Regions from separate parts of the Homo sapiens genome. Here all the other regions are reported to be linked to region 6. The links are microRNA targets in miRTarBase. Many come from high-throughput screens and were not tested one by one. Region 6 holds a microRNA gene; each other region holds the end of a gene's coding sequence. Distances are from middle to middle.
The links. Region 6 holds the annotated microRNA hsa-miR-31-5p (AGGCAAGAUGCUGGCAUAGCU, at 1,709-1,729, opposite strand). A microRNA usually pairs through its seed, bases 2 to 8, with sites in the 3' UTR of a target mRNA and lowers its output. Matches are read on the target gene's strand: a 7mer-m8 pairs with bases 2 to 8, a 7mer-A1 pairs with bases 2 to 7 and ends in A, and an 8mer does both.

Region 1 (4,290 bases), not on the chromosome of region 6:
AACCTCAGTCTATGCGCGGATTGATTCATTTGTTACACAGAGAGTTACTGAGCTCTTCTCAGGCACCAGGCACCAGGCACCATTCTGGGGTTATCGTGGGCTAACTAGACAAAGACCCTTGTCCCCATGGTGTTTCCATTCCAGTGGGGAAGGCAGATAAGAAACAAGGAAGGCCAGGCGCGGTGGCTCACACCTGTAATCCCAGCACTTTGGGAGGCCGAGGCCAGGCGGATCACAAAGTCAGGTGTTCGAGACCAGTCTGGCCAACATGGTGAAACCCTGTCTCTACTAAAAATACAAAAATTAGCTGGGTATGGTGGCGGGCACCTGTAATCCCCTAGCTACTTGGGAAGCTGAGGCGTGAGACTCGATTGAACCCACGAGGCAGAGGTTGCAGTGAGCTGAGATCGCACCACCGCACTCCAGCCTGGGTGACAGCAAGACTTAAAAAAAAAAAAAAAAAAAAAGGAGGGGGAAGGGAAGGACCAGAAGACTGGAGGGCCAGGGTAGAGCTGATCCCCCATTCACCAGGTGCCTCATTGTGTCTGGCCCTGAGCTGTCTCCCTTTAAGAAAAACCCAGGAAGCTGGCCATCGTTTGTGAACTGAGCCTCAGAGAGGTTAAGCATCAGCCCATAGGCCGTGGCATGAAGCACGGTTGCGGGTGGGGCGTCCGTGCCATGCAAGCCAGGCCCCCACTGTCCCCGCAGATCCAGCAGGCCATCCATGGCAACCTGCAGAAGCACACGGTACTCATCATCGCGCACCGGCTGAGCACCGTGGAGCACGCGCACCTCATTGTGGTGCTGGACAAGGGCCGCGTAGTGCAGCAGGGCACCCACCAGCAGCTGCTGGCCCAGGGCGGCCTCTACGCCAAGCTGGTGCAGCGGCAGATGCTGGGGCTTCAGCCCGCCGCAGACTTCACAGCTGGCCACAACGAGCCTGTAGCCAACGGCAGTCACAAGGCCTGATGGGGGGCCCCTGCTTCTCCCGGTGGGGCAGAGGACCCGGTGCCTGCCTGGCAGATGTGCCCACGGAGGCCCCCAGCTGCCCTCCGAGCCCAGGCCTGCAGCACTGAAAGACGACCTGCCATGTCCCATGGATCACCGCTTCCTGCATCTTGCCCCTGGTCCCTGCCCCATTCCCAGGGCACTCCTTACCCCTGCTGCCCTGAGCCAACGCCTTCACGGACCTCCCTAGCCTCCTAAGCAAAGGTAGAGCTGCCTTTTTAAACCTAGGTCTTACCAGGGTTTTTACTGTTTGGTTTGAGGCACCCCAGTCAACTCCTAGATTTCAAAAACCTTTTTCTAATTGGGAGTAATGGCGGGCACTTTCACCAAGATGTTCTAGAAACTTCTGAGCCAGGAGTGAATGGCCCTTCCTTAGTAGCCTGGGGGATGTCCAGAGACTAGGCCTCTCCCCTTTACCCCTCCAGAGAAGGGGCTTCCCTGTCCCGGAGGGAGACACGGGGAACGGGATTTTCCGTCTCTCCCTCTTGCCAGCTCTGTGAGTCTGGCCAGGGCGGGTAGGGAGCGTGGAGGGCATCTGTCTGCCATCGCCCGCTGCCAATCTAAGCCAGTCTCACTGTGAACCACACGAAACCTCAACTGGGGGAGTGAGGGGCTGGCCAGGTCTGGAGGGGCCTCAGGGGTGCCCCCAGCCCGGCACCCAGCGCTTTCGCCCCTCGTCCACCCACCCCTGGCTGGCAGCCTCCCTCCCCACACCCGCCCCTGTGCTCTGCTGTCTGGAGGCCACGTGGATGTTCATGAGATGCATTCTCTTCTGTCTTTGGTGGATGGGATGGTGGCAAAGCCCAGGATCTGGCTTTGCCAGAGGTTGCAACATGTTGAGAGAACCCGGTCAATAAAGTGTACTACCTCTTACCCCTAACCTCTGACTTCTACTTGGGCCAACTGCCTCATCGCCCAGTTAGGTTTTTCCACCAGACCACGGCTCTCCTCTCAGCCCTCTCTGGTGGAGTTGCAGAGAGACTTTGGGTGGTCCAGGGCCTCCCCCTGTGTCTGGGAGCCCCATCTGCACTCCTCCCATCCCAGGGTCTCTGGTGTAGACATTCCTGTCTGCCTGTCTCCACGGGGATTGCGCAGGGGGATAGAGACGTTGCCTTGAAATCCCAGGGGCCTCTGTGCTTCCCGGGACAGCTGAACTGAGGCCCAACAAATGCCACCTGTTCTTTTCCATCGGGGCCCAGGCACCCGACACCCACCCCAATCCATGCAGTAAAGAAATATTACCCAGGAGGACAGCTCAATCAGCAGGGAGGTTTGGGCCCGGACACAGGAAGACCCCTGCGGTGGTTATTCTTACTTGCTGAATTGTGAAGAACTCTGGGGTCCCAGGAGGAGGGCTCTGTGCCAACTGGTAGAGTAGTATTTCAATTTTTTTTTTTTTTTTTGAGACAGAGCCTTGCTCTGTCACCCAGATTGGAGTGCAGTGGCACAATCTTGGCTTACTACAACCTCCACCTCCCGAGTTCAAGCGATTCTCCTGCCTCAGCCTCCTGAGTAACTGGGACTACAGGCACCCACCACCACACCCGGCTCATTTTTGTATTTTTAGTAAAGATGGGTTTCACTGTGTTGGCCAGGCTGGTCTCAAACTCCTAACCTCAGATGGCCTGCCCACCTTGGCCTCCCTAAGTGCTGGGATTATAGGCGTGAGCCACCGCGCCTGGCCAGCCTTGTCTTTCTCTTATAAAAGCACTTGTCATTGGATTTAGAGGCCACCTAGATAATCCGGGCTGATCTCATCTAGCGGTCCTTTGCATCTGCAAAGACCCTTTTTTCCAAATACGGTCACTTCACAGGTTCAGGGGTTTGACAAGGGAAGCTTTTGGGGGCCACCACTCAGCCTGCTACAGAGGGGAACTTGCAACCTTGGTTGAAGTTAACCTCAGGACTTCCTTTTTGATTTTAGGAAGCAGAGGGGGTTAAGTTTTCAGAGACTTAGCATATCTTCAGATGTTTCCAGAGAAGTTGGAAATTCCAATTTTCATGTGAGATCAGCTGTTTTTTATGTATTGGCTCAAATTATTTTGACAAAACCGAGGACCAACAAGCACATGTGTAGAGGTGGTCTCCAGCCTGTGCATCTCTAGTTTGTAGCGTCAGTGTTGGACATTCCTGTTCTGCAAAGTCCCTCGCAAGGGGCTTCCTGGCCCCAGCCCAGCCCCGTTCCAGTCTAAGCTCCTCTCCCATCTGCCTGTCTCTTCTCATCCCTGCACTTTCAGGCTGAGAATTCCAGATTCTTCTCCCTCTCCTATGGAGTTAGCTCCAGTGCCTTGATTTGTAAACCCACACCCAAAAGTGCGCCATAGGCAGACAAAAGAACCTTCCAGAGACCGAATTACCTTCTTTTTAGGAGGTACATAGGAGTTTTAAAAAAGTAATGTTTAGGCCAGATGCAGTGGCTCATGCCTGTAATCCCAGCACTTTGGGAGGCCAAGGTGGGTGGATCACGAGGTCAGGAGTTCAAGACCAGCCTGGCCAACATGGTAAAACCCTGTCTCTACTAAAAATACAAAAATTAGCCGGGCGTGTTGGCACACGCCTGTAGTCCCAGCTACTCGGGAGGCTGAGGCAGGAGAATTGCTTGAATCCGGGAGGCAGAGGTTTCAGTGAGCCGAGATCACGTCACTGCACTCCAGCCTGGGTGACAGAGCGAGACTGTCTCAAAAAAAAAAAAAGTTTAATTTTGAAATAATTTTAGATTTACAGAAAAGTCACAAAACAATACAGAAAGTTCCCTTATGCCCCACCCCTCACAGTTTCTCTTCTCTTAAAATCCCACAGTACTGGGGTACATTTGTCACAATTAGGAAACCAACATAGCATGTCACTATCAGTGAAACTGCAAGCTGTATTTGTGTGTCACTAGTTTTCTTACTAATGTCCTCTTTCTGTTCCAGTGTCCCACATTACATTTAAGATAGGAGTGTTTTTGTTTGTTTGTTTGTTTGTTTTTAGAGACAGGTTCTTGCTCTATTGCCCAGACTGGAGTGCAGAGGTGCTATCACAGCTCACTGTAGCCTCAACCTTCTGGGCTCAAGTGATCCTCCCACCTCAGCCTTCAGAGTAGCTGGGGCTACAGGTGCACATCGCCATGCCCAGCTAATTTTTTCTTTTGCTTTTTTTTTTTTTGTAGAGACAGGCCTTGCTTTGTTGAACAGGCTGGTCTCAAACCCCTGGCCTCAATCAATCCTCCCACCTTGGCCTCCCAAAGTGTTGAGCTTATAGGCATGAGCCACCACGCCCAGCTAGAGATATAATGTTTTC
Region 2 (4,290 bases), not on the chromosome of region 6:
TTGGAAAGGAAAGTGGGCCAAAGAGAGCTGCTCGGAGGAGACCAAGCATCTTGCAGTGTTAACAATTGTTTTCTGCGAGAAATTGTCCTCCAAACTACACACACACACACACACACACACACACACACACACACACACACACATATCCCTGAGGTTCAGCAGGGATCAGTGGAAAACAACTTAGAGGAAGTACAGCTGTTCCCTCTGAGGAGCGCTCGTTGGGGAAGCCAGGCCTAGGAAGAGGGGGTGTTCCTGGGCGGTGGCCTGCAGCCTTCCTTTCACTGAGGCATCCGAGCCCAAGGAGCTGCAGTCTCCCCTTGGGAATATGACATAACCATAGGAGGAAAGGGCCTTGAAAAAACAGACCGGTGTCCACATGTCCTTCGGCACAGGAAGCCCTGTCCCATCCTGTATGCGGGAACTCCAAGATCTGCCAACGCTCTAGCATCACCTCGTCTCCTGCCAGACAAATACCCCAAAGCCAGCGATCTGATAGGATGTGTTTATATTTACACGGTACATTTTAAAGCAATGGCTACATTGGTCATACATATTAGAAACCATAAAAAAAAGTTAAGAACTAAAATGTACATCATACACTTGTATATATATTTTTTACACAGAGGTAAAAAGGCTTATTATAAAAAAATCAATACAACAGGGTTTTTAGTATACAGGTAAAGAATGAATTATGCTTCAGGCACTTTAATTTGTTAATGTGAGCAAATAGCTTGGGGGGTCGGGGAGGCTTCTGGACAGAAAATCTTTTGGTTAATGTTTTGTTACCACAGATACAAAAATAAAATCTGAATAATTTCTCTCAAATGATTGACGTCAGTATGGCAAAGCTGACTGGGAAAATACTACACACTGTTCAGCTGCAGTGTGGCAATTAGAGACGTATTTACATAAATGTCCCCATGGCTGTCTTTGTGCCCTTAACCGATGCCTTCACAAACCAAAAAGTATACGTGGAGTAAGATCTGCTAGCGTAACTCTTAAAAGGGTGGAAAAGGACAAGGGGTGAAAGAAGAGAGAAACAGGTAACAACTAAATAGAGGTGACAAACAAAAAACAGCTGGGATATGTGCGTTCTTATTGAAATAAATAGGGGCACTTGAACTGAGGTCTAAGGAAACGAACATTAGTGTTGTGCTTTGTAGAGAAGAGACCCTAGAGAAAGACCCCAAGGAAGTGCCTCCGGGTCGGGGGAAGGTGGTCTCTCGACAGCACTGGAGGCTGGCTGAAGGTTTTCTAGATGTTCTCCAGGCATGGATGAGGTTCTCTTTTCTTCCATCAATCCAGATGGACAGCTCTCTGCTCCTTTTCCAAACTGGAAAGCCTAAACCAGTTACTCCAATGAATGAAGACGTCTACTAACTGACTCATAAGCACACTGGGTATTTACACCGGTAATCTACTAAAGAAAATCGATGAGCTTGTGGACGAGCTGGAAACAGCCCCATGAAGGTGAGCACAGCTAGCACTTTCCCAATATGATTGGCAGACTGGAAAAAAGTCCCTTTCCTTGAAGACTGGTGTCCTGTGTGCAATAAAGAAGGAGTGGGGAAAGGGAGTGGGGAGCAGGCCATGTCTTCTGCTGGCCGCTACCACAGAAAGATCGTGGCGGGAAGAACAGCCGGCGTCCGCAAGCCTGTCCCCGGTGGTCTCCACGAGGTTCTGATTGTACTATGCTAGGTATAGGTAACCACTCTTCACTTTTCTTCTTTCTTCAATAAGAAGATTTGGCTAATCCTTGCAACGTATTAGAAAAATACTCTTTTCCAGCTAATTAGAAGCCTCCTCCGTGGCAAGGCGACAGGCAGAACCAGTTGGCTGACCTAACCACCTGTGCACCCAAAGTGGCGAGTCTGGGTTTGGAGTTGCAGGAGAAAGACACTTAGGCATTGGAAGGGTTTTTACATATGGCCTTGTTTTTTCCCCAAGTATAAATGAGGAATTTGGTGATGTGAAATTGAGTCCAAAATGAAACGAAAACATAAACCCATGAAGAAAATGCAACCCACCACTCTTCAAATTTATGACATTTAAAAATCCCCTCTCCCCATTAATATAAAATAGCCAGGGGTTGGGGGGAAGAAGCTCCCTATGGTTTTATTCACCATAACCTTAGTGTTTCTCAACTGGAACTTGTTCGTGGGAACACTGATTTGTGTTTGAGGAAACTATTTGGTTTGCAAAACAACAAGCAAAATTTCTTACTTCACTAGTATCCTATTCTAATATTGCTAAATTTTTAGAAGTGGTGGCAACACAATTTAAAAAATGTTCTACTTTAGGGGTAATGGGGAGGCTCATAGAAACCTGAAATCCCCATTCTAGCCCTGGTCCAAGAGGATGCAATGCAGTTGAAGGAATTTTCCTGATTCTCACAAGTTAATCTGAAGTTAAGGCTCAATTCTCAGTCTATTACGGGTGAATGTTTTGCATCAGTGAATCATTTCAACAGATTTTGGGGGGGCAGAAAATGATGATGGGCTAAAGATAGAAACTGCAGCTTACATGGGAAATTTGGCTTTAGAAAAGTTAAAGCGATATTGTTTTGTGGTACAAGTTTGTTAACTAGCTCACCTCCTATACATAATAACTGACTGCAGGCTGAGATACTTCTGTCGGGTTTCATCATTCTCACATCCCATTTCCGCTGAACCAGATGCTTGCTAGCGACAGGCAAGGTGAACCAAGAGAAAGAGAGTCTTCGACGCTCTTGGAAAAATCAACTACAAAACCCACCGAAAATCAGCAGTTCCAATTGCAGACTCCTTTGAACTGGAAGAGGCGGGGGAGGAGGAAACAGGAAATCAACACATGGATGAGACAGTTAGCTTGGTTACAGATTGTTAATAGTACAGGAGTCTGTGGCGAAGGTTCCTTCCTCAGAACACTGTGCGAGCGTGTGTGTATGGATGTGGCTGCTGCAGTGTGGGCGGCAGGGGGAGTGGAGAGTCTACCCGGCAGCGTCCCTGGCTGGAATGGTGCCTCGAGGTACCAGGGAGCTGGGAGGCCGCTTGCCCTCCTCGCTCCTTGGAGTGGAAGGGAGCGGGGGAGAAGATGAGAGTATGTAAGAGACGAGTTCCCCTGTGGCTGCGGATGGAGGGAGAAGGGAGGGAAACTGAGTCACGCGGCCGCTTTGTGCTTCCCGCCACAGCACCTGCACATCACTCCGCAGTGGTAGCAGGCCCGAAGGGGCAGGTAACAGCACATACAGGGGGCCAGGAAAGACAAGGCAATAAGAGCCATCCACCGGAGGCAAAACTTCTCGTCGCTAGTATCGCACGAGCAAGGGTCTGTATAGTCTCCCTCGGGGTCCGACATACAGTGATAGAGCATGCTGTCCGCGCACCACATGCAGCTCACCCGGCGGATGCAAGTTCTCACGGAGTCGGGCGCGTCCTGGCAGTGGCCCCGGCGGTTCTCCTCGTGGTTGAACATGTCCCTGCAGTACACGCACCGCGAGCGCTCTCCGTCCTCCTTCCGCCGCCGCGACTTGCCCCGGGAGGGCTGCGTCTTGATCACGCTGCCCCCGCGGCCTTTGGGGTCCTCGCCTAGGCCAAAGTCTGAGGAGTCCACGTAGGGGTAGTTGTAGTCATGCTTGGGGACCTCGCCCTTGGCGAAGCGCACGTAGGAGGAGTCCGCGTCCTCCGAGGGGTCCGGGTACTTGCCCCTGACGGGTGCGTGCCGGTAATCCTCGTACCCCGTCATCCAGATCTTCTCCCGGGGGTTGATGCGCACGATCTCCTCGTCGTCGTCCGGGAAGCTCACCTGGCGGTAGGGCCTTGGCATCGGCTGTCCCGTAGGAGAGGAGACATTATTTTACAGCAGCGGCCAAAAAACAAACAAACAAAAAAACACCCCACCTTCTCCCTCCCTAGCCGTCCAAAATGCACCTTTCTCGATAACTCCATCACGATGCTCCGTGAAGAAACAGACCCTTCCTGAAATTACTGAATATCCTGTCGCCCAGTCAGAGATGTATTTCAAATAGAGTCTCAATCCATTAATGGGCCAGGAAATCAATTTCGTGGGTTGAGACCGGCAGTATTTTCCCTTTCTGGTGACGCACTGCCATACAGGCAGGGGAGTGTGCACATGGCAAGGGCACAGTGTGATGCGTTCTCAGGAGCATGGCACACTCAGATCAAGAGGCAGAACAGGACCTGTGCCCCAGAGTATCTTCCGCCTCCCTCAGGGATCTCCTAGCCCCAGTGTGAGGGCTACACTCACTTCTAAAGGCCTGCATTAGTTTTGCCTATTTTTGTATGGTATGTT
Region 3 (4,290 bases), not on the chromosome of region 6:
GTGAAAATGGCTAGTTAGTAAGTCAATATTGATTTTATTTTTTTTTCTTTCAGTTTCTGTCTTGTCTTTTCTCTGTCACATACAGATATAGTGCATGGCCAAAGTGATTCTCAAACTGTGAAACAAATGATTATTATTTGGGATGTTTGTCAAATTTCACATCCAGAGGTTCTGAAGTGTGGCCTTGAAAGCTGCACGTCTAACAAACTCTTAGAGGAATTTATAGGTATTCCGATGCAAGTGAACCATGGCCTACACTTTGAGAAACAGTAGACTACATTGATAGACTTCTATCTGCCATCTGCACCAAACAGATACAGATAAGGATGTATTCAAAGACCAGACCAGAATTTGAAGGGACTTAATACCAGGTCAATTAAGATATTGGAGATATAGAACAAAATGAGTTACACTTTGAATGTCCTCAGCTGACATAAGGGCTACTGAGAGGAAGTGACCACAGGGACAGTTTTGACTAGTTTCTAATGTAGTTTCAGGAGATAGTGAATGCTGTCACCGCACTGGCTAACCATTTGGCAGGGATTTTGTAGAAGGGATTAAAGCATTGAGTTTGGTGACTGAGTTCTCTACAACCTGAGATTCTAGAATCCTCAAGTCCTGTTTCTCCCCGCCCCTCCCCCCGCAGCTTTCAAAACTAATAATATGACTTGACTTGCCTTAGATATTAAATAAAAAAAGCCTTTTTTAAAAGAGAGATAAACTGCTTCTGACAACATGTGATAGTGTGATAGTTCTGGCCTAAAAAATAGGAGCATGCCAAACACAAACAAATTTCTGTTCACTTTAGGGTATAAAAATTCTCTTAGTTATGACCAGAAATACTCAGCCAATGACTGAATAATAGAGACTTATGTTTTGAGGGGAATTGTGGTAATATTTTATGCATCCTTTTGCTTTGATACAGTTTTTTTCAAATCCAGGTTCCCATCCTGAAATTGCTGACCGAGCTTTCATTTATTTTCATACCATTTTTCCTCTGTCTAGCACGTATTGAAAAAGCTTCTGGCTATAACAGAACTGCTTCAACAAAAACAAAACCAGTATACAAAAACCAATGATGTCAGGTAGCAGCCTTCGCCCCAGTGTTCTGCATGGATTCAGCATGTCCAACATGGTAATTCACTTCAGTTTAATGTCTCCTTTGCTCTTGCCAAAAAATAGCACACTTTTCCACATTCCAGTGATGTGTGAGCTATGCAAACAAAATCCAAGATTCTGCTGGTGAATAACTATGCCAGCAACCTTGTAAGCTATCTGTGCAGGATATTTGCACTATTTCCACATGGAATCAATCTTTAACAACCTCTGAGCCTTGGTGTACAGACCACCTTTCACAAAACGAAATGCTATGACTGTATCTTGATATCTCGAACTTTCAAAATATATTTTCAGTACACCCAGTTGCCAAAGTTTTGCTGTCTCTTAGAGAAAGAACTATGAAATCAACTGACAAGAAACACATTCTTATTGACAATTGTGTATAACTGGATTGCAGACTGTTCTTACTGTAACTACTTCCTGATTAGGAATATGACCATTTGACTGTTCAATGATTATTTGTATTTACAGTTTCCAGAGTTTGTCATTATAATAGGAACAATCTTTGCTGTATACTTTTAAAAAATACTCTGCTATTTCTCTTGCTGGAACTGTTGAAAGAAAATATATAGAATGATCTATTGCTCATCAGCTTTATTTTTTAAACATACGACTTATTTTGTTGAAATTGTCAAAGACTGTATTTAGATCTCATAATGCTTTGTTAAATGTTTACAAGTAAATAGTTTGAATTCAGTAAATATTATTGGTTGTTGTATTGATCAATGCATGTTACCCATTCAACCATTTTATAGACTACCAATTTCTTTTATGTTAACTAGAATGCTTTTGTTAAAAGTTATTTGTTCATTATTTGTGCTACCCCTTTGATTATGCAGACAACCTCATCAGCTGCCTAACTTATCCATCTTTGAACTTCTGACTACTTGTTGTATCTGCTGGATATTTAGTTCAACTGTATAGTTTTATTTACTTCTGTATGTGTATTTTTGTGAAGTATTCACAAAGGTTAAGTTAAAATAAAACCAAGGGATATCTTGCATAATTGATTACTTCTGTCTAAAAGAGCTAAGCATTTAATTTATTTATTTTCTTCCTCCTTCAGGGGCAGTTTAAACCTTAGCATCAGAGCAAGGCCCAGGGAGAAGCTGAAGCTTTAGATTAGTATTTTTGCTAATGGCCTCTTTTGAAAAGGATTTTATAAATGCAATAATTCCTTCCCTCTCATAATTGTGCAGGGCAGATAGATAGGACATATGGAACATACGTGGCAGAATGACATTGGTAATCAAAGTGAGTGAGACAGGAACCCAAGGAGGTGTTCCCACAGTAAGGAAAGCCCTAGATTCCAAGAGCAACACTTTATGCTATTCCTCTAATGTATAAAATACAGGAAAAAAAAATGCTAAGGGCTTAAAAGATGTCTGCTTAGTAGTTCCAAGCTACAAAAGGCAGTTATTTCTATGGGGGCTGCTAACCTATGTGGCTTCAATCACCGTTTAACACTGATACCAAAAATCTCAACATGTCCCATGCTCCTTTTCCTTGAAATCAGCTCAATTCATTCCATTCTCTCCCTTCTTGGCTCTTTTATCAAATTACTCTCCTTTCCACCCCTTCTGTTTTTTAGCTGGACTTGGACCAACATAGTATCCCAGGTGGTCTCCTTCCTTGGTTACATGATAGAAGACAGGGAGGATATGGATTAGTCAAGATATTTTTGCTGTGCACTTTGGCTCCCATTTATCACACCTCAATCTTTAGCCATACTAACCTGTCATTCCTCAGTCTGAAATCCTTCTCCCTTTTATTTAAAATCACAAACCTGACTTACCCTGCTTCTTATATTTTAACATCATTTGTCTCTCAAGTTGAAATGGAAACTTGTTACTTACCTTTGTAGGCCCTCTAGTAACTAGCTTGTCAGTGTTGAAATAAAATCTCTCACACTTTAACGTTTTTAATGGGGCTGGGTGGGAAAATTTTCAGTGATAAGTGTGGACCTTGCTCTGATGCCAAAGTTTGGCGATCTGAAAGGGAAAATGAGACAAATTGTGAACATCTTGTAATTCTGTCTAGAGCCTAGCAGCAATATATTTAACTAGGACTGCGATGGAGGATTTATAACTTTTGGCTTCTTCCACTCTGCTTTTGTAAAAATCTCACATCACGAATTTTATTCCTTTCACTCTGGAATGAGAAAAAAAAAAAACCCACAAAACTCAAGCCTACAGTGTAAAGAATTATTGTTAGAGAGATGAATATGCATATAGTAAGTATTGCCTTAAAATAGATGTAACTATAATGGTACCTACCTTTCTGGAAAGTACAGCCTGGGATGTACTGAGACTGAGGAGGTGTGTGTATTTGTGCAATTTAATTAGATTCAGGACACTTGAATTACTCGGAATTCCTTCAAGCCAGTTTTCCTGAAAAAAATCTGGCTTGGTAAACAGACGTCCACAGTTTGGTTCCAATTATAATAGTTAACACTTACTGAATACTAGTGTATGCAGGTACTATTCTAATTAATCCTATGAAGAGTAGGCATTTTTATCTTCCCCATTTTCAGTGTGGGAAACTGGCACTTAGAGGTTTAATAACTTACCAAGGTCACATAGTGAAATACAGCTGGCCATGATTCATATGTAAGTAATTTGCTGTAATAGTCTGTGCTTTCATATTTTTATATTGACTCATTTCAATTTGAATTACATTTCTCTAACATATTTAATCTGCAAAATTCCTAGTAACTGTTATAATCTACTTACACGGATTCACTTATAGGATCTAATAGGTTAATTATAAGGCTGTGGTGATGTGTGCCTGTAGTCCCAATTACTCAGAAAACTGAGGCAGAGGATCACTAGAGCCTAGGAGTCTGAGACAGCCTGGGCAACATAGCAAGACCTTACATCAAAACAAAATTAAAAAACAACCACAACTGAATATACAATTTGCTGCTACCTACTTATCTATACTAGCGTAAGAGTTTGATGTAGACAGCTATTCAAAATCATATATCTGGTTTTTTTTAAAAACCCATTTGGAAATGTTTTCGGGTAACTAAAGAAAAATAATATTCATTACCCAGACGACTGGCTTTCAGTACCATGTAACAGTTGAAATACCTTCTGCAGTTTAATAGTAATGGACAAATAGCTAAATATATCAGGATGGCATTCAAAAAGCCATTTATAAAGGTTTCTA
Region 4 (4,101 bases), not on the chromosome of region 6:
CCTTGGTGCTGATAGAAACTATGTGTTGCCCAGTGATGCTGGAGGGAGCTATAAAGAGGAAGAGAAGAATGTTGCCAGTGACGCTAACCATAGCCTGCATCTGCCGCAACCGCCCCCACCACCGCCAAAGACAGAAGACCATGACACCCCTGCTCCCTTCACGTCCATTCCTAGCATGATGACCCAGCCACTCCTAGGCACTGTCAGCACGGGCATCCAGACCAGCACGAGCTCCTGCCAGCCATACAAAGTTCAAAGCAATGGAGACTTCAGTAAAAACAGCTTCCTCACCCCTGACAATGCAGTAGACATTACCACTGGGACCAACTCCTGTCTGAGCAATAGTGAGCACTCCAAAGATCCTGGCTTTGGGCAGATGGATGAGCTCCAGCTCGAGGACCTGGGGGATGATGACTTGCAGTTTGAAGACCCTGCTGAGGATATAGGCACAACTGAGGAGGTGATTGAGCTGAGTGATGACAGTGAGGATGAGTTGGCTTTTGGAGAGAATGACAATCGGGAGAATAAGGCCATGCCCTGCCAGGTGTGCAAGAAAGTTCTAGAGCCCAACATTCAACTGATCCGGCAGCATGCTCGGGACCATGTGGACCTGCTGACGGGCAACTGCAAGGTCTGCGAGACCCACTTCCAGGACCGAAACTCCCGGGTAACTCATGTCCTGTCCCACATTGGTATTTTCCTTTTCTCCTGCGACATGTGTGAAACTAAGTTCTTTACCCAGTGGCAGCTGACCCTTCACCGACGGGATGGAATATTTGAGAACAACATCATTGTCCACCCCAACGATCCCCTGCCAGGGAAGCTGGGTCTCTTTTCAGGGGCAGCCTCCCCAGAGCTGAAATGCGCTGCCTGTGGGAAAGTATTGGCCAAAGATTTCCATGTGGTCCGGGGCCACATCCTTGACCATCTAAACTTGAAGGGCCAGGCCTGCAGTGTCTGCGACCAGCGTCACCTTAACCTCTGCAGCCTCATGTGGCACACGCTGTCCCATCTCGGCATCTCAGTCTTCTCCTGTTCTGTCTGTGCGAACAGCTTTGTGGACTGGCATCTTCTAGAGAAGCACATGGCTGTGCACCAAAGTCTGGAAGACGCCCTCTTCCACTGCCGCTTGTGCAGCCAGAGCTTCAAGTCAGAGGCTGCCTATCGCTACCACGTCAGCCAGCACAAATGCAACAGTGGCCTTGATGCACGGCCTGGTTTTGGGCTGCAGCACCCAGCTCTCCAGAAGCGGAAGCTGCCAGCAGAGGAGTTTCTGGGTGAAGAGCTGGCGCTGCAGGGCCAACCTGGGAACAGCAAGTATAGCTGCAAGGTCTGTGGCAAAAGATTTGCCCACACAAGCGAATTCAACTACCACCGGCGGATCCACACGGGGGAGAAGCCATACCAATGTAAGGTGTGCCACAAGTTCTTTCGAGGCCGCTCGACCATCAAGTGCCACCTAAAGACACACTCGGGGGCCCTCATGTACCGCTGCACAGTCTGTGGGCACTACAGTTCCACCCTTAACCTCATGAGCAAACATGTTGGTGTGCACAAAGGCAGCCTCCCCCCTGACTTCACCATCGAGCAGACCTTCATGTACATCATCCATTCCAAAGAGGCGGATAAGAACCCGGACAGTTGACTGGGTCCCGGCAGAGCCACGGGGAGCTCCCAAGCAGCAGCCAGGATGCTGATATCTAAGAGGTGTTGGTCCCTCCCCAGCTGAAGTTATAATTTTGCCTTGGTAGGAATTCTGTTCTGTGTTGTGTTTAAAGAAGAAAAGAAGAAGAAATAGCACATAAGCTGTTACTGTTGTTGAGAAGCAACAGCCCTATCACATTTACCTCCATACCTGTTCTTGCCCATGCAGGGCTATGTTTTTCATTCTTTTGAGGCTGGTTTTGGGATCTAGTCAAGCAGTTGGTGTCCACTAGACCCCCTTCCCCAGCCTCTCTAGTTTTAGTTTACTGATAGGTTTTATGCTGCTAAGAATCCAACCAACAGCCTCACTTAACAGAGGAGGTAAAGGGAGGTTTTCACTGTGGGTGTTACTGCAGGCCTCCAACTGGGATGACCAGCAATGAGAAAGATTTTGGGAATGTGATCATTCAGAAAAGACAGGTCAGCAGGGCAGTCCCCTCAGGTTCCAGCCCTCAGCAGGGACAAGACATCAGGGATGTTGGTGTCTGCTTATCTACAGCCCTAATCTGCTGATTGAACAGTGAAAATCTTTTGGCAGCTAGATCCATACTAGGCACAGAGCTTTCTATTTAGGTCAGAAAGCTTTGGGATGAACCCCTGCCAGCCAGAAGGGGTGTCCTGCAGTGCCACCAGAAGTGGCAGCCTGGATGGACAGGAGAGGTTTCTCTTTTCTCCTCATTTCCAAAGAAACAGGATTTTATGGAGTGATGGCCCGGGACGTCCGGCCTTCTGTGGGGCAGAGAGGATAGGGAACCACTTTGATATAGTCATCTGTTTTGGCCACTTCTGTTGGCCATGAGTGTCTTGGTGGAGAGGTGGGGATGTATCTGACAGCAGCAGCCTTGCCTTAATTTATATCTGGTCTCCCGTCCAGAAGTGTTTGGCCCGTGGTGTAGATGAGCTGACTCCATGAAGTGGTGGAGTGGCAGACCGCGAGCCCTTCAGGATTAAAGGGACCTGAGTAACTGGTGGTGTGTAGCAGGGTGTGCGTTCTGACTGTCTGTCCTAGTCGGGTAACCTGTTTACTTTGTGCTAACAGTGCCGGAGCTTTGTCAGCTCACCTTTGACCTGCTGGAATTTATCCTGATCTGTCGTTGCCATCACCTCCAGGGGGCGCTATTGGATGGCAGCTGGTTCAGGCCCTCCGTGGGTGGCTGCAGAGTGTGCCGGCACAGCCCACGCAGCTGGTTAGCTCCACTCTTACTTGGTTTTCTAAGGGGCTTTGCCCAAAGAAGTCTTGAGGGATAGGGCCCTCGATCTTGCATACTTGTGAGGTGCCACCTCAGTAGCTCATACTACCTCACCCTGCTCAGGTGAGCTCTGGGAGTCCCTGGCCTCAGCCCTGGCACTGCCCCTGGTGGGATTCAGCAACACCCCGGGCTGTTTCACAAGCAAGTGGTTTTCATTAACTCACAAAGCCTTTTTGGACATTAATATTTATTTATTTTTGTTTTTGTATACACATTACCCAGCATCTCTTTTGTATAAGAGACTTTAGGAAAATGAGTTTCTCCCCAGCAAGTAGCCATATTCCAGAGAACAGCCTTGACCAGAGATGTGGAGAACCAGGGGTATAACTAAGGGAAGACATGTCAAGCCCTTAAGCAAATTCTTCTTCTCCAGATTGTCTCTAGCATAATAAACCCAGGGAACACTTTAGGCCATGGGTGTATGTTCTATAAAGTTCGGGACAGTTAAATTCCAGGCCTTTCATCCCCCTTCCTTCCTGTGATGGAGTAGATTGGGGACAGGGTTGAGGGGAACAAGTGACATGAATGACCTATTTGCACAGTTTGGAAGCCTCCTGTCTTTATTTATATTGAGATGTCAGACAAACCAAAGCTCCATCCTTGTTGGACCTGCTGCTTCTCCCCAGCCCTGAACTGATAAAGCCTCAGAGTTGGAGTGCCTGGCTCTCTGGTGGGGTGACCATTAGATGAAGGGACTTGTACAGTGGCCAGTTTAAAGGTCCACCTTTGACCATCTAAACCCACCTTGTTCAGTGTCCTCTGAGGACATCCTCATCAGGAAAGCAGTGTTGAGACTCTTCATTGCTGACTGGCTTCTCCCTTTCTTACTCACACTGACCATTAGAATTTAAGAAGGAAATGTGTAACAGACTACAGTCAAGTGTCTGCTACATTTTCAAGCATGAGCAATCCCTCCCAGACTGTTGGTGAGGACTGATTTTTGAAATGCTGGTGTGAGAGAGGTGGTAATTACAGGAACCAGCCGAGTGGCTGAGAGCAGATAAATGTGCTGGAGAAACCTTTTTCCTTAACAGAGGGCATCATGGATGCTGGGTGGTCTGTGTACTTAACCTGAAACTGTGAAGTTTTCCCTTTTTGCCAGTAAACCAAAAAGCAGATCCTTGAAACTTGGCCCTTGAAACACGAA
Region 5 (4,290 bases), 93 Mb from region 6:
CATTCCTATAGGACTGGGCTAGGAAGGATGCTCTTCTACCCACTTCCCAGGACATGGGGCCAGACCCTCCCACTCCTGCAGAATCCCTATTATTATTATTATTACTATTATTAATTATTAATTATTGCCTTTCTCCAGCACCCCTTGCTTGGCAAATGGAACCCCCAGATATTCTTCCATGAGGGGGTTTTGCTATCAAGCCTAGGGTGATCCTGGCCTCCCCAAGATCCGGCTCCAAGAAGATTGCAGGAGTCCATGTTTTCTTGTCCCACTGTAACCCCAGAGCCTGGCACGCTGGCTGGCATGTACTAGATGGGCAGTAAATCAGATGAACAGGTAGATTGAACTTCCTGTCCTTGAACACCTGTTCTGGGTCAGGCACTCATGTTGTTATCTTCCTTCATCTTTCTAAGAAATCCCTGGATGTGTGCCCATTATTCCCATTTTAGAGGTAAAGAAACTGAGACCCAGAGAGTAGGAGCCACTGGCCCAGCTGGGATTTAGAAGGGGGTTGACCCCACACACGGTGCTCCTCGGCTTGTCCCCAGCCCTCCCCATGTGTAACGAGCCCACTCACTTCTCTCCTCAGGTACTATGCGCCTGCAGGACCTACCTCAGCCCAACCAGCTGCCAAGTGGCCGCCCACAGCCTCTCCCCCACCAGCCCGGAGACACCGGCACTCCATCCAGCTCGACCTGGGCGACCTAGAGGAGCTCAACAAGGCCCTGAGCCGGGCCGTGCAGGCTGCCGAGAGCGTCCGCTCTACCACCAGGCAGATGAGAAGCTCGCTGTCAGCCGACCTGCGCCAGGCTCACAGCCTGCGGGGCTCCTGCCTCTTCTGACTTCACTGGGGGCCCAGAGGCAGATGGGTGGGTGGGTGGGCAGGTGGCCTGCCAGGCCAGGAGTGGGCTGGAGCTGCTGAGGCCCAGAAGGCCCGCATAGTTCCTCACCAGGAGGGTCTCCCTCCAGCACAGGTCCCGCCTGCTCAGTCCCTGTGCTTTCCAAGTGGAGGGGGTGTCAGCTCGGTCACCAAGAGAAGTGACTTCCCAGGAGCACCAGTCCCCTCACAGAGGTGCTGTGAGCGAGGCCTCCTTCGGTCCAGGCAGAACCTCAGGCAGTCTCTCCTGGTCCTGCATGTGTGCAACTCCAGCTAATAATAGGTATTTTATATACAGATGGACAGATATTTTTTTAAACTGGGGAGTTTTCCTGATCTTGGGTCCTCTTTAGGGGGCCAGACAAGAAAGGCCTACGGTTTCTGGAGCAAACCTGTCCCCCACCTGTGACCAGTCACTCTGGGGCAAGCATCACTGGGAAGGGCATAGCCGGAGACCTTTCTCCTAGTGACTGGTAGTCAGTGGGGCATTTTAGGATGTCAGGGCCCCAGGGTGACATGTGTCCAGCTTTTCTATGGCAGCAGAGGCCTTTCCCTCAGACAAGCTACAAAGTGCCCAGGATGCCATCCACCATGGTCCCCTTCAGTACCTCACGCATGGTCCCCAGCTTCTCCTAGGATCCCAGTGGCGTTTATCAGTGGCCAGCTACCTGCCAGGCCCGGGCTGGGGCACGGTCTGCGGCCATGAGGCCAGGCCGCCTCCCGCACCCCTACCCCGTGGCAGCAGCATACCTCTGCATTTCTGGAATGTGTGTGCATCAATGATGTTTGTATATTTGAGGCATTTAAAAATCTATTTTCGTTACGAGGGCAAATGAAGAATGAATATTGATCTTAAAAAAAGAAAAGAAGACAAAAAAAATACCCAAAGCCATCCGTGTCTCTGCTGTATGTCATTAACTTTTGCCTTCAATGTCAAGTTTATGGGGTGGTAGGTTTGATGCCCAGCCAAGCCCTTTCCCAGGGGACCTGTTGGGTGCTCTGCCTGCCTCCCTCTGGTGGCTTCTGTTTCTCCAGTTTTCCCCCTTTGCCTATCTCAGAACCATAAATCTTTCAACTGCGGAGGGCCTTGAGGTGGGGCTGCCTAGCCAAGTCCCTTTTGACTGAGGCCAGAGATGTAAATGAGGCACACAGCAAGTTGCTGTCTACAAGAGTATGCACCTGGACTCTCCAGTGCTCCTTTCTTTCTTTTTTTTTTCTTTTTTCTTTTTCTTTTTTTTTTTTTTTTTGAGACTGAGTTTTGCTCTGGTTGCCCAGGCTGGGGTACAGTGGTGGAATCTCGGCTCACTGCAACCTCCGCCTCCCGGGTTCAAGTGATTCTCTTGCCTCAGCCTCCCGAGTAGCTGGGATTACAGGCATGCACCACCACGTCTGGCTAATTTTGTATTTTTAGTAGAGACAGGGTTTCTCCATGTTGGTCGGGCTGATCTTGCACTCCCAGCCTCAGGTGATCCACCCACCTCAGCCTCCCAAATTGCTGGGATTACAGGCGTGAGCCATGGCGCCCAGCCTTCCAGTACTTTCAGTAGCAAACAGCACCTGCCATTTAGGGAGCACCTGCTAGACCCTGATTCCGGTGCTAAGCACTGGGCATTGTCTGCTTCACACAGTCCATGTGCTAACCCTCAGGACCCTCACTCTGCCCCCCTTTTACTGATGAGGAGAGTGGGGTTCCAATGGGCCATCTGCCCAAACTGGTTTGGGAGAGAACCTGGATTTAAACTCACATTGGTCTGACCCAAAGTCCACATTCTTTGTTATGTGTGTTTTTTGCTTCCTCTACCTCCATGATTCTTTTTCTCTTGACCTCTGGTTTCTTCCTCACGTGGCTTTTTCTTCCATGTTCCCCACTTCTCGTCTCCCTTGCTTCTCCCTGCTCTGCCCATCATGACTCATTTCTGTTTCATTTTTCAGCGGATCCTCCTGAGTATGGTTGAAAATGGTGTCTCACTGAAAGTAACACTGAAATGGACAAACTTCCTGTAGGTTCTGAGCCTTCAGTTCCAGGACATTGTGGGACCCCAGAGGCTGTCCTGTCCACTTGCCTTCTGAGGACATCAGCTCGGTGTCCCCAGCCTCCGTGCTGTGGGCACAGCTGTGGTTTGGGTGCTGAGCAAAGGATGCTGTAGTCTTGGCCCTGTGGAGCTTGGCTGTTGGGACAGGAGGTACAAAGGGGAGTGGTGCCTGTGGACACAGGACTAGACCCCAGGACATCAGGGCCTCGGGCTCATGGTCCTATCACCCTGGATGGTATACGCAGCTGCACACGTGGAATTGCTCAAACAATTCAGGCCCAACTTTTCTGCCACGGAAGGGGTGCTGCTTCCCTCACGTAACAAGAGGCTGTCAATCACGAGCACCCAGGTTGGGGTGAGGCCGGCCCTTTGTGGCTTGTGCCACTGAGTGGGCTGTGCCTCGGGCTTGGCTCCACCTCAGGGCTCCACATTTGCAGGATGTCAGCTGATTTCCAGGGACCAGCCTCACCCTTACGTGTTATCTCCTTCTTCTGGGTCTCCCAGGTGAGCACCCTAAGAACACATCCATGGAGACACCCAGCCCCTCTGGCCTGGGCCCCAAGCCCTCTGCATCACCCCAGCCCTTCCCTGCCCTGCCCTGTCCTGGCCCAGGCAACCGCCTCTTGCCTAGTTGCCCACAGCAGCCTTCACTCAGGCCTTCCTGCCTCCAGCCTGGTCCCCACAACGTGCCTCCCCCGATGGCCATGGTAATACTGGAATAAGGTCCTTGTGATAGGCACCACATGCCTGAACTCTCCCCACCCCATCCACCTTGTATTTGTCTGTTCTCACATTGCTATAAAGAACTACCTGAGACTGGGTAGTTTATGAAAAAAAGAGGTTTAATTGACTCACAGTTCCGCAGGCTTCAGAGGAAGCATGGCTGGGAGGCCTCAGGAAACTTACAATCATGGTGGAAGGCAAAGAGGAAGCAAGTCCCTTCTTCACAAGACAGCAGGAGAGACAGAGCGAAGGGGGAGGTGCTACACACTTTTAAACAATGAGACCTTGTGAGAAACAGCACCTGGGAGGTGGGGCTAAACCATTAGAAACCAGCCCCGTGATACAATCACCTCCCAGCAGGACCCGCCTCCAACACATGGGGCTGAAAATTCCATGTGAGATTCGGGTGGGGACACAGAGCCAAACAATATCACACCTCCACTCCTGTTTAGGGTCTTCTGCCTCAAGGTTACTCAAATGCATCCTCTCATTTCCTTGCTTGCAGCAGAAACAGAAAAGGATTTTTTTTTATGACTAGTTGAAGTTTTATTACAATCTTGCTATTAGGAGAAAGGCCTTACAGTAGTCTCAGTTTAGAAATTCACATTTGTTTGCTTGTATTGTTTTAAATGGACACATAATGTACATATTTATGGG
Region 6 (4,241 bases):
TCTAATTTTCAGCTAAAGCTGTTTTGTGAGTTCTTAAAAGCCTTCATAGGCAAGATCAGCTTGTACAATGATGTCTTTAAACAAATTATCCTTATATAAAGAGATGCTTATAAAAGTTGTAGACTAAAACTACCTCACTTTTGTGCTACACATTTTTGTTAAATTAGCAGCTTAGTTTAATATACTCCAAGAGGCATGAAATGAAGGTATAATGTGATCTTTCTGTATGTTTTAATACCCTGAGTAATAATAAATAATGACAATCGAGAATAGTGACTGCTACTTTATTTCTTGGAAAAGCATTAAAATTAACATGAAATTTTATTTATTAAAAGCAAAGCTTTTTATTAAAACTTCAATGCTTAAAAACATGAAACATCAAACAGTATTTATTAAACATTAGTATTTATTAAACATTAAAATACAATTGTATTTACTGAACATTCTTACTCTTTAAAGTGAATGTGTAAAAACCACTTTTAAAAGAGATCTACAGATAATGAGTAACTCCAGAAACAAAGGAAGATGAGGAATGTGAACTAACCAGGAGAAGAACTTGAGATCCTTGACAATTAACTCCTTGGTCTCTCAAGATTTCTATCTTTACAAAGAATTCTACATGTACTATCGTTCTGGCATAGAATTTCCACACATTTCACATAAAATCCCTTGTCTCTAACTAAAGAAAACTTTTTTCTTAGTAGTGAAATAAATGTGTTGAGTGTCTACTGGTATGCATATATCAAGAATTTTAGAGACACTAAATTTTTAGACATGTGATAAGAATCATCTGACTAAAATACCTTATTTCCTTATCTTGAGGGTCCTATGGAGTCACTATTATTACTCTAATTTTACATTTGTGTAAACTGTGGCTCAGAGGTTAAATGACTTAAGAACGCACCAGTAATGAGATTTGACCATAAGTTTTACTTTGAAGCTCATGCTTTTCCCAATAAAATATGCTGACTTCCACAAGTCTATGGATCCAATGACACATTTACTGTGACTGCTTTAAAGAGTTAGGTTTGCAGGCCCAGAACTCAACATTATCTGTTTATTTCTTTATTATTAGTTTTGTGCCAGGGATTTCACCAAAGACATTTATAATGCAAAAACTATAATTATTTGATATCTCTTTTGCATCAGGGTAGAGTTTCAAAAATATGTATTGAGAACCTACTATGTGTCACACTCTAAGGATACAGTGGTTATCCCTAACAAGGTCCCTAACCCTCAAGAAGCTTACATGGTAGTGCGGGAGAAAAGACACTAAGCAAGTAAACAAATACGTTTCAGGGAGCACCAATGTTTCTGAAAAAGCAGAGTAATGGGATAAAGGGTGACTGAAGTGCTGGAGTATTTTAGATAGCATGGTCACAGAAGGCTTCTCTGAGGAGATGATATCCTCGCTGAGGCCCAAATGATGAGAGAAAGGTAGGCAAGCTAAGAGGCAAGAACATCCTAGGTGTGTCCAAGGAATAGCCATACAGGCCAATGTGGCTAGCATGGAGTGAATTCATGGTAGGACACAATACATAGCAGGACAGGAAGTAAGGAAGGTGAGAAAGGCCATGTCATGGAAATCCACATCCAAGGAAGGGCGCACATACACAGCAATACACGAAGGACTGGCATGCAGGTGGCCATGGCTGCTGTCAGACAGGAAAGATGGCAATATGTTGGCATAGCAGGTTCCCAGTTCAACAGCTATGCCAGCATCTTGCCTCCTCTCCAGTTCCAAGTTACAGGAGAATACTATGACTCTTCAGTGTTTTACTTTTCCAAAATTTTTCCTTTCACCTGAGGGAGGGAAAACACACTCATTAATTGAAAGCGCACTTATTTCTGATCATAACAACATAGTCTTCCTTAGAGTGTCCGCTTTTGAAGATGTAGTTAGGCACAGGAGGTTTGTGGGTAGTTCCATTTTTTTAATGGTCTTTGATCTAAAATGAACCTCGAGAATGTTTATGGACTACTTGTGAAACCACAGGGATGAAATTGTGACAAAAATTTTATTAAATCAATAATGTCTAAAGTTGATGACAGTTAATTATAGGCTATTACCACCATATTTATAGTCCACAAAATATCCCAGTGACTCTCAGTACAATTTTATTTTTACTCTAATAACTTTACTTGGTCAATTTCTGCCACTCAGATGTATTTAAACAATAACAAACTGTGGCTCAGCAGTGTGTAGTTAGTTCACTGCTTTATGTGCTCTTAAAAATAATGTTATTTTTGGATTTTTTTAAAGACATTCTTGCTCTGTCATCCAGGATACAGTGCAGTGGTGCGACCATAGCTCACTGCAGCCTCAATCTCCCAGGCTCAGGTGAATCCTCCCACCCTAGCCTCTCAAGCAACTGGGACTACAGGTGTGTGCCATCACTCTTTTTTTTTTTTTTTGTATTTTTAGTAGAGACAAGGTCTCGCTATGTTGCCCAGGCTGGTCTCAAACCCTTAAACTCAAGCCATACTCCTGCCTCCACTTCCCAAAGTGTTTGGATTACAGGCATGAGCCACCATGCCCTGCCAAAAATAATGCTCTTTTGAGCCAAAAATTCCCAGCTAGAAACTTATTTCACAAGTACATTTGCAAAAGTACCACTAAGTTCTAGGTCCAAGGATGTTCACTGCAACACTGTTTTTAATAGTAAAAGATTGGAGACAACTTGAACACTCATCAGTATGATTGATACAGGCTAAATAAATAATATAGTTATACAACAGAATATTTGGTGGTCCTTACAAAACAGTAAGGCATAAGAATAATGACATTATGTATAACTTTTGTGCAAGTGAAAATGTATACACAGACACATACCTGGAGGGCATACATACATGTTTTTTATTAAAGGATAAATGAGCAATTTATTATTTTAAATAAAAAAATTGGATAGGATTATAAATTATGTTTGCTTTCCTCTTTAATATGTCTCTATTAAAAAACTAGTAAGTAATACGTATTATTTACCCAAAATGGAGTGTAAGGTAACCTATAAAGGTAAAACATTTTGTTATATAGTGCTACCAAGGTATAGATAAGGAAGAAGCATACTCTTTTAAATATGATTCTAGTATCAATTGCCTTTGCCAGAAACAAAAGTCCAGCATTACCTAAGCCTGGTACTAGATATACACATATGCAGTCACCCACGCATATACAGTATGTGGTGTCTGTTCTTGTGAGGGTAGGAACTTATGAGTGTTCTATTGCACAAAAGCCTGTAACATCTTGTCCTGAGGCTAGGTAACTTGTGGAAGAGGTACTAATTGACTTCCTAGGATACAATTCAACTTAATTGCATGATCTATTAATGTAAGGGTATTTAGGAATTTGGGGATCATTAAGTACAGAGCATTGAATCAAAATTAATGGCAAATGCAAAACAGGTTAGGTAACAAAATTCTGAATTGAGAAGATTTAACTGAATAAAGCTTCTCCAATAAACTCATTATTTTAAAAAATATTACTAATATCTGATATTCATAATTAAGAGGCAGGTACAAGCTGCATCATTTTAGAAGGTATATGGTACATATTTGAAAACAGTAATTTCTTGTGACTTTTTTCAGTTCCATTTTGCACATAAAAATTTCAGATTCAAGGCCAGGCATGGTCTTGAGTACATCTCAGAACTTTTGAAGGCCAAGGTGGAAGGATCACTTGAGGCCAGGAGATCAAGATCAGCCAGAGAAATATAGCAAGATTCCATCTCTACTAAAAATAAAAATAAATTAGCCAGCTGTGGTGGCATGCACCTGTAGTCCTAGCTACTTGGGAGAATGAGACATGAGGATTGCTTGAGCACAGGAGTTTGAGGCTGTAGTACTGTACTCCAGCATGGATGACAGAGCGAGGTTTTTCTCAAAAAAAAATTCAGATTCATTTTGTAAAGAAAATTGAATAACAGCAACTATCTGATTTACCAGTCAGATGTAGCAGATACCTGAATATTTAAAAGGAGGAAGAAAACTTACTTTTTAGGTTATCAAATAATTTCTCAATGTGTAATTGAAAAGTCTAGAAAAAAACTGTACTCTTTTGAAGAAGCTGTTGCTGTTGAAACTGAGGTGCTTTCTTTAATTTCTCTAATATATCCTGAGAATCATGGCTTTCACCAGGTTACTGGTAAAACCCACACCCTCACCACATATACCTTAAACAAATTTCTTGCAAAACTCTAACCTAACCAGGAATTGTTACAATGGGAAAACAAATCAGGTATATA
Region 7 (4,290 bases), not on the chromosome of region 6:
CCTCGGGCCTCCAGGTGGCTTAGGTGGGAACTGTCACCACCACTTGCAGGGGGCTAGGACCCTGAGTCTCCCTGAGCACAGTTGAGCTGCCTTCAGGATAAGCCCAGAGAGAGACCAAGCACCCACTCAGTAAGGGCTGTGCTGGGATGGGTACGGCGAGAGGCGCAAGACCCTGGTCCTTCCACCCACAGCCTGGAGTTTACTGGGGGAGACAAGCCCCATACACAAACCATCCTGCTGTGAGAACAGAGGGCTAAACCAGAGGGATGCCAATGGGTCAGCGCCTGCCTGCCCAGGCTCCTGTGTGCCCTGCTTTGGGCCAGGCGCAGCTTGTGGCAGAAGAGATGAGGTCCCTGTTGGAGGTGCTGGTAGCCCATGGGGAGGGGTCCTCTCTCAGGACCAGTCTCATTCCTGAGATGATGGCTCCGCTACTCTGAGGGCCACTGCCACTCCCACCAGTGACGGGCCATGAGTGAAGTCAGAAAGGGACCCTGGCATGGAAGACTTGTTTATGCACACTCAGGTCTTGCCAGTCCCGGAGGCATGGACTCCCACCGCCTTCCTCCTGCAGCCAGACCCACGAGAGGCACCAAGACCCCAGAGCTGCAGGGCCCCTGCTGACCAGCAGCCTCCTCTTCTCCTGCCTGAGAGCCAAGACTGGGCAGAACCCCCGCTCAGACAGCAAACATCAGGCAGCCTGTCCCCTCCTCTCTACCCCAAATCTTGTCTGTTCTAAGCAGGCCAGGCTGAAGAATGTCCCACTGGGCTCTCCGGGGCACTAGACCCTCCCTTTCCCTCCCTTTGTGTTTTGTTTGTTTTTGTTTTTTTTTTTCAATCCTTCTCCTGTATAGACCCTCCCTTTGTAACTAAGTCATGGGATTTCAAGATGCGGGGCCTTTGGGCTGTGGTTCTTTCATTTTCCGAAACAATGGCATACCCTCATTTTTCTCTCTCGCTTACTCACTGAGGCATATGTACAAAGGCCCATGTGCCAACAGGCTGGCCAATGACCTGCATGTACGAGAGACTGTATGCCTAGGCATGGGGCAGTGAAGTTGGCACAGTGGGCAGTTAATAATGTCGGCTCTGAATCAGGAAAACCTGGGTCCAAGTCCAGGCTCTGCCACTTACACACTGCAACATGGGGCAAGTCACTTAACTTCCCTGAGCCTCTGTCTCCTCATCTATAAGATGGGATGGAGTGGCTGTGAGGATTCACTCAGGCCATGCACACAGTGAGCCTCCAGGAGAGGGTGTCTGTGGTTTGTTAGCAGGCACAAGAGCCCGTCTCACCCTCTGTGCTTCCTTCCCTGCAGGCTCTCAGATCGATGACCATGTTCCAAAGCGAGCTTCAGCTCGGATCCTCGCTCCTCCCGGAGGCAGGTCGAGTGGCATTTGGTAAAGGCATTGCCAAGCCCCCCGAGTGAGGACGCACCGCCGCCACCAGCCCGCAACTCTCCAGCCGAAGCTGCAGGGGCAGGAGAGGCTGGGCTGGGTGGCACACCACCCGAGGGGGGCCCCGGGACCCACGGAGCCCTCCCTATGTCTGCAAAGTGATTCACTGTGCTTCGAGCCAACTCTAACAGGCACTTTGAGATGTGTTCCTCCTGCTGTAGTCCTTTCTGCCTTGGCCTCGGCGGGCTTTTCTGGGGCCCAGGAAGCCCACACTATGCACAGAGCCCAATGCATAGAGCCCTGGCCAGCCCTTCCTCTCACTCCTGCCTCCGCTGGCTTTGGGAAAGCCCAGACTTTAGTGCCCTGCCCCCTGGCTGACTGGCCAGTTGCCCAGAGCACTTTAGCAGATGTGGTTTCAAAGTAAAGGCCTCCTCCCCCACCCCTTAGGCCCCGTGGTGACATTTCCCAAGTCAGACAGATGTCAGCTTCCCAGCCATGCCCAGGACGTCCTATCTCCCCCAACCCACCTCTGGCCCTGTGTAGGGGCAGGGATGGGGGTGGCTGGGACTCCTGGTGCCCCTCGCCAGCTTCTCCTGCGCCCCGCCCACACCCTCGGGGGGTCACAGGCCCAGAAGGGTAGCTGGGCGGGGCTCGAGGCTGGTGCCAGGCGCGTGTAAATGGTTTTGTTTTGCACGTTTGGTTTGCGCAGTAGTTTGGTTTGACTTGTTTGTGCATCCTGTGAAAAATAACGGTGCTTGTGTCACTAGCATAGAATAGCGACAGGAATAGATGTGGTCCTTAGGAGACGCTGCACTTGACACCAACCAGACAGCACAGGGCAGGGGTGGTGGAGGGGGCTGGGCTCACAGGCCTCTCTTTTCCCCGCCTGCAGTCTTCTGGGCTGCGGGAGGCCCTGGCCCTTTCCCCTTCCCCTCCCCTCCTTGTCTAGTTTCCCACATTCCAAAAGGGGGCCTGGGATGCTAGCCCCAGAGATGCCAGCCCTTCAGGAAGCAGGTGTCCTTTCCCCTCTCTGCCCCTGATCACTCCCAGCACTCCCCTTGCCTTCCCCTGTCTTCACCTGCCACCACACACACACACACACACACACACACACACACACACGCACGGCTTCCTATAACTTCTTCCTGCTGGACAGAGACTCAGCGCTCCTCCTGTGTGACTGGCAAGAGGCCTCATGCCTGCTGAGAGAGGAGGAGTGGGAGAGGGGCTTGCCAGACACCAGAGAGGGAGACCCCAGGCCCACAGGACCTGGCTGTCGAACCCGCATTGCTGCTCAGGTGCCGTGATCTCCCGTGGTCGGCACCAGGCCCTTGCCAGCTCATGGCCTCATCTTCTCCCCTGTCCATCCAGGTGGGCCCTCCCTGCTTCTAAAGCCCCACAGAAGTTCCCATGGAAACACTAGAGGCCGGGTGTCTCCTTCCACCTCCAGTGATCTGGGAAGTGACCCAGCCGCCTGCCCTTGTTAAGCCTGGTCTGCCCCGTGGGAAGTGACTTCATGTTGCACATGTGATTTCAGCCCCCGAGGCTTGCGCGAGGCTTCTGGACCCTCGGTTAAAGGTCAGCCCCTGGCCGGGTGCGGTGGCTCACGCCTGTAATCCCAGCACTTTGGGAGGCCAAGGCGGGTGGATCATGGAGTCAGGAGATCGAGACCATCCTGGCTAACACGGTGAAACCCCGTCTCTACTAAAAATACAAAAATTACCCAGGCGTGGTGGCGGGCGCCTGTAGTCCCAGCTACTGAGGAGGCTGAGGCAGGAGAATAGCGTGAACCCGGGAGGCGGAGCTTGCAGTGAGCCAAGATCACGCCACTGCACTTCAGCCTGGACGACAGAGTGAGACTCCATCTCAAAAAACAGACAAACAAAAAAGTCAGCCCCTGCACATCTCTGTAGTGCTTTTCATGTATTCAAACCACTTCCGTATATGACCTCTCACTTAGTCCTCATGACAATGGAGCACTTATTATTCTTCCCATTTTACAGATGAGGAAACTAAGACCCAGAAAGTTCAGGTCCTCTGACCCCAGAAGTGTCTGTGATGACCCTCCCAACCTTGGCTATCTACCCCACCTGTGGAGAGGAGGTCTGGGGTGACATCTATTGTAGATCCCACCTGAGAGTTTAACCAATGAGAAGACTTACTTTCCTGGTAGGCAGCCTGCTTTGTTTTGCACAGGAAGATAGATTTTTTTTCTCATCTTTCTTATAAACAACCTCATGCACATTCTGTGTTTGAGCCAAGACTAGTCACCCATTGGGGGCTAACCGTGCAGTGTGAGCTGCGTCCACACCCTCACTTCTCCCTTCACTCCCCCTTTCCTCACTCAGGGGCTGAGAGGACAGAGGTGGTCAGCCGGGGAGCAGAGGTGGCGAAGGGGCTCATGGCAAGTGGCAGCCATTGGAACAGGGGTGAGGACCCAGGCCTGGGAAAGCCACCAGGGATGGGGGAAACCATGACGCCGCCTCCTGGTGCAGTGCACACCATCTCTATCCCTGTCAGCCCTCACTGGGTCATGGGCCTTGGGCAGATGTCAAAGAGCCCAGCAGCAGCGGTGGTGGCCAGCTGGGCAGAGCATCCTTGCTTGGGCTAGGAAAGCTTTACCTTCTCTGAGTGCCTCCGCCTGAGAGATGTGTGACCCGTGGCACCAGGGAACCACGTCTTGGAGTGGTCCACTGTAGGCCATGCGCTTCATCCACCCCCAGTCCCTACATAGGCCCTACCCTTGCCCGGGAGCTTCTAGATAGAAATCAGAAAGAGATTCAAGGAGCCAAATGAGCGGTCAGCCCCCACCATGCACTCCTTGCCCCGTGCAGAGCTCCAGCCAGCTTCGTCACCAGCCCCACTGGCTCCTGGTTGGAACGAAAGGGTCTCTGG

Region 1: the mRNA of ABCB9 is a reported target of hsa-miR-31-5p. Seed matches in the 3' UTR shown: 7mer-m8 at 1,117-1,123 and 8mer at 1,492-1,499.
Region 2: miRTarBase lists SPRED2 as a target of hsa-miR-31-5p. Seed matches in the 3' UTR shown: 7mer-A1 at 1,809-1,815.
Region 3: miRTarBase lists RASA1 as a target of hsa-miR-31-5p. Seed matches in the 3' UTR shown: 8mer at 1,167-1,174.
Region 4: the mRNA of ZBTB39 is a reported target of hsa-miR-31-5p. Seed matches in the 3' UTR shown: 7mer-m8 at 1,860-1,866.
Region 5: miRTarBase lists AKNA as a target of hsa-miR-31-5p. Seed matches in the 3' UTR shown: 7mer-m8 at 2,216-2,222 and 7mer-m8 at 3,532-3,538.
Region 7: miRTarBase lists DPYSL5 as a target of hsa-miR-31-5p. Seed matches in the 3' UTR shown: 7mer-A1 at 2,624-2,630 and 7mer-A1 at 2,726-2,732.

What each region holds. Positions count from the first base shown.
Region 1 is chr12:122,926,590-122,930,879 of GRCh38, reverse strand. It overlaps ABCB9 (ATP binding cassette subfamily B member 9), which reads left to right. Exons shown (of 12, transcript NM_019625.4): 12 at 709-1,888. The coding sequence ends at 969. Among named protein-coding and RNA genes, the nearest start is that of VPS37B, 33 kb to the right of the region's middle. RefSeq lists an enhancer at 462-962.
Region 2 is chr2:65,310,363-65,314,652 of GRCh38, forward strand. It overlaps SPRED2 (sprouty related EVH1 domain containing 2), which reads right to left. Exons shown (of 6, transcript NM_181784.3): 6 at 489-3,807. The coding sequence ends at 3,139. Among named protein-coding and RNA genes, the nearest start is that of ACTR2, 85 kb to the left of the region's middle.
Region 3 is chr5:87,389,795-87,394,084 of GRCh38, forward strand. RASA1 (RAS p21 protein activator 1) reads left to right here. Exons shown (of 25, transcript NM_002890.3): 25 at 1,006-2,122. The coding sequence ends at 1,089. It also overlaps a transcript of CCNH not described here. Among named protein-coding and RNA genes, the nearest start is that of CCNH, 21 kb to the right of the region's middle.
Region 4 is chr12:57,000,323-57,004,423 of GRCh38, reverse strand. ZBTB39 (zinc finger and BTB domain containing 39) reads left to right here. Exons shown (of 2, transcript NM_014830.3): 2 at 1-4,101. The coding sequence ends at 1,645. Among named protein-coding and RNA genes, the nearest start is that of ZBTB39, 4.2 kb to the left of the region's middle.
Region 5 is chr9:114,333,606-114,337,895 of GRCh38, reverse strand. AKNA (AT-hook transcription factor) reads left to right here. Exons shown (of 22, transcript NM_001317950.2): 22 at 590-3,740. The coding sequence ends at 842. Among named protein-coding and RNA genes, the nearest start is that of ORM2, 5.9 kb to the right of the region's middle. RefSeq lists an enhancer at 3,354-3,854.
Region 6 is chr9:21,510,450-21,514,690 of GRCh38, forward strand. MIR31 (microRNA 31) reads right to left here and starts at 1,736; the gene lies at 1,666-1,736. The region is part of intron 1 of MIR31HG (MIR31 host gene); the gene reads right to left.
Region 7 is chr2:26,945,594-26,949,883 of GRCh38, forward strand. It overlaps DPYSL5 (dihydropyrimidinase like 5), which reads left to right. Exons shown (of 13, transcript NM_020134.4): 13 at 1,317-4,290. The coding sequence ends at 1,402. Among named protein-coding and RNA genes, the nearest start is that of MAPRE3, 23 kb to the right of the region's middle. RefSeq lists an enhancer at 3,976-4,290.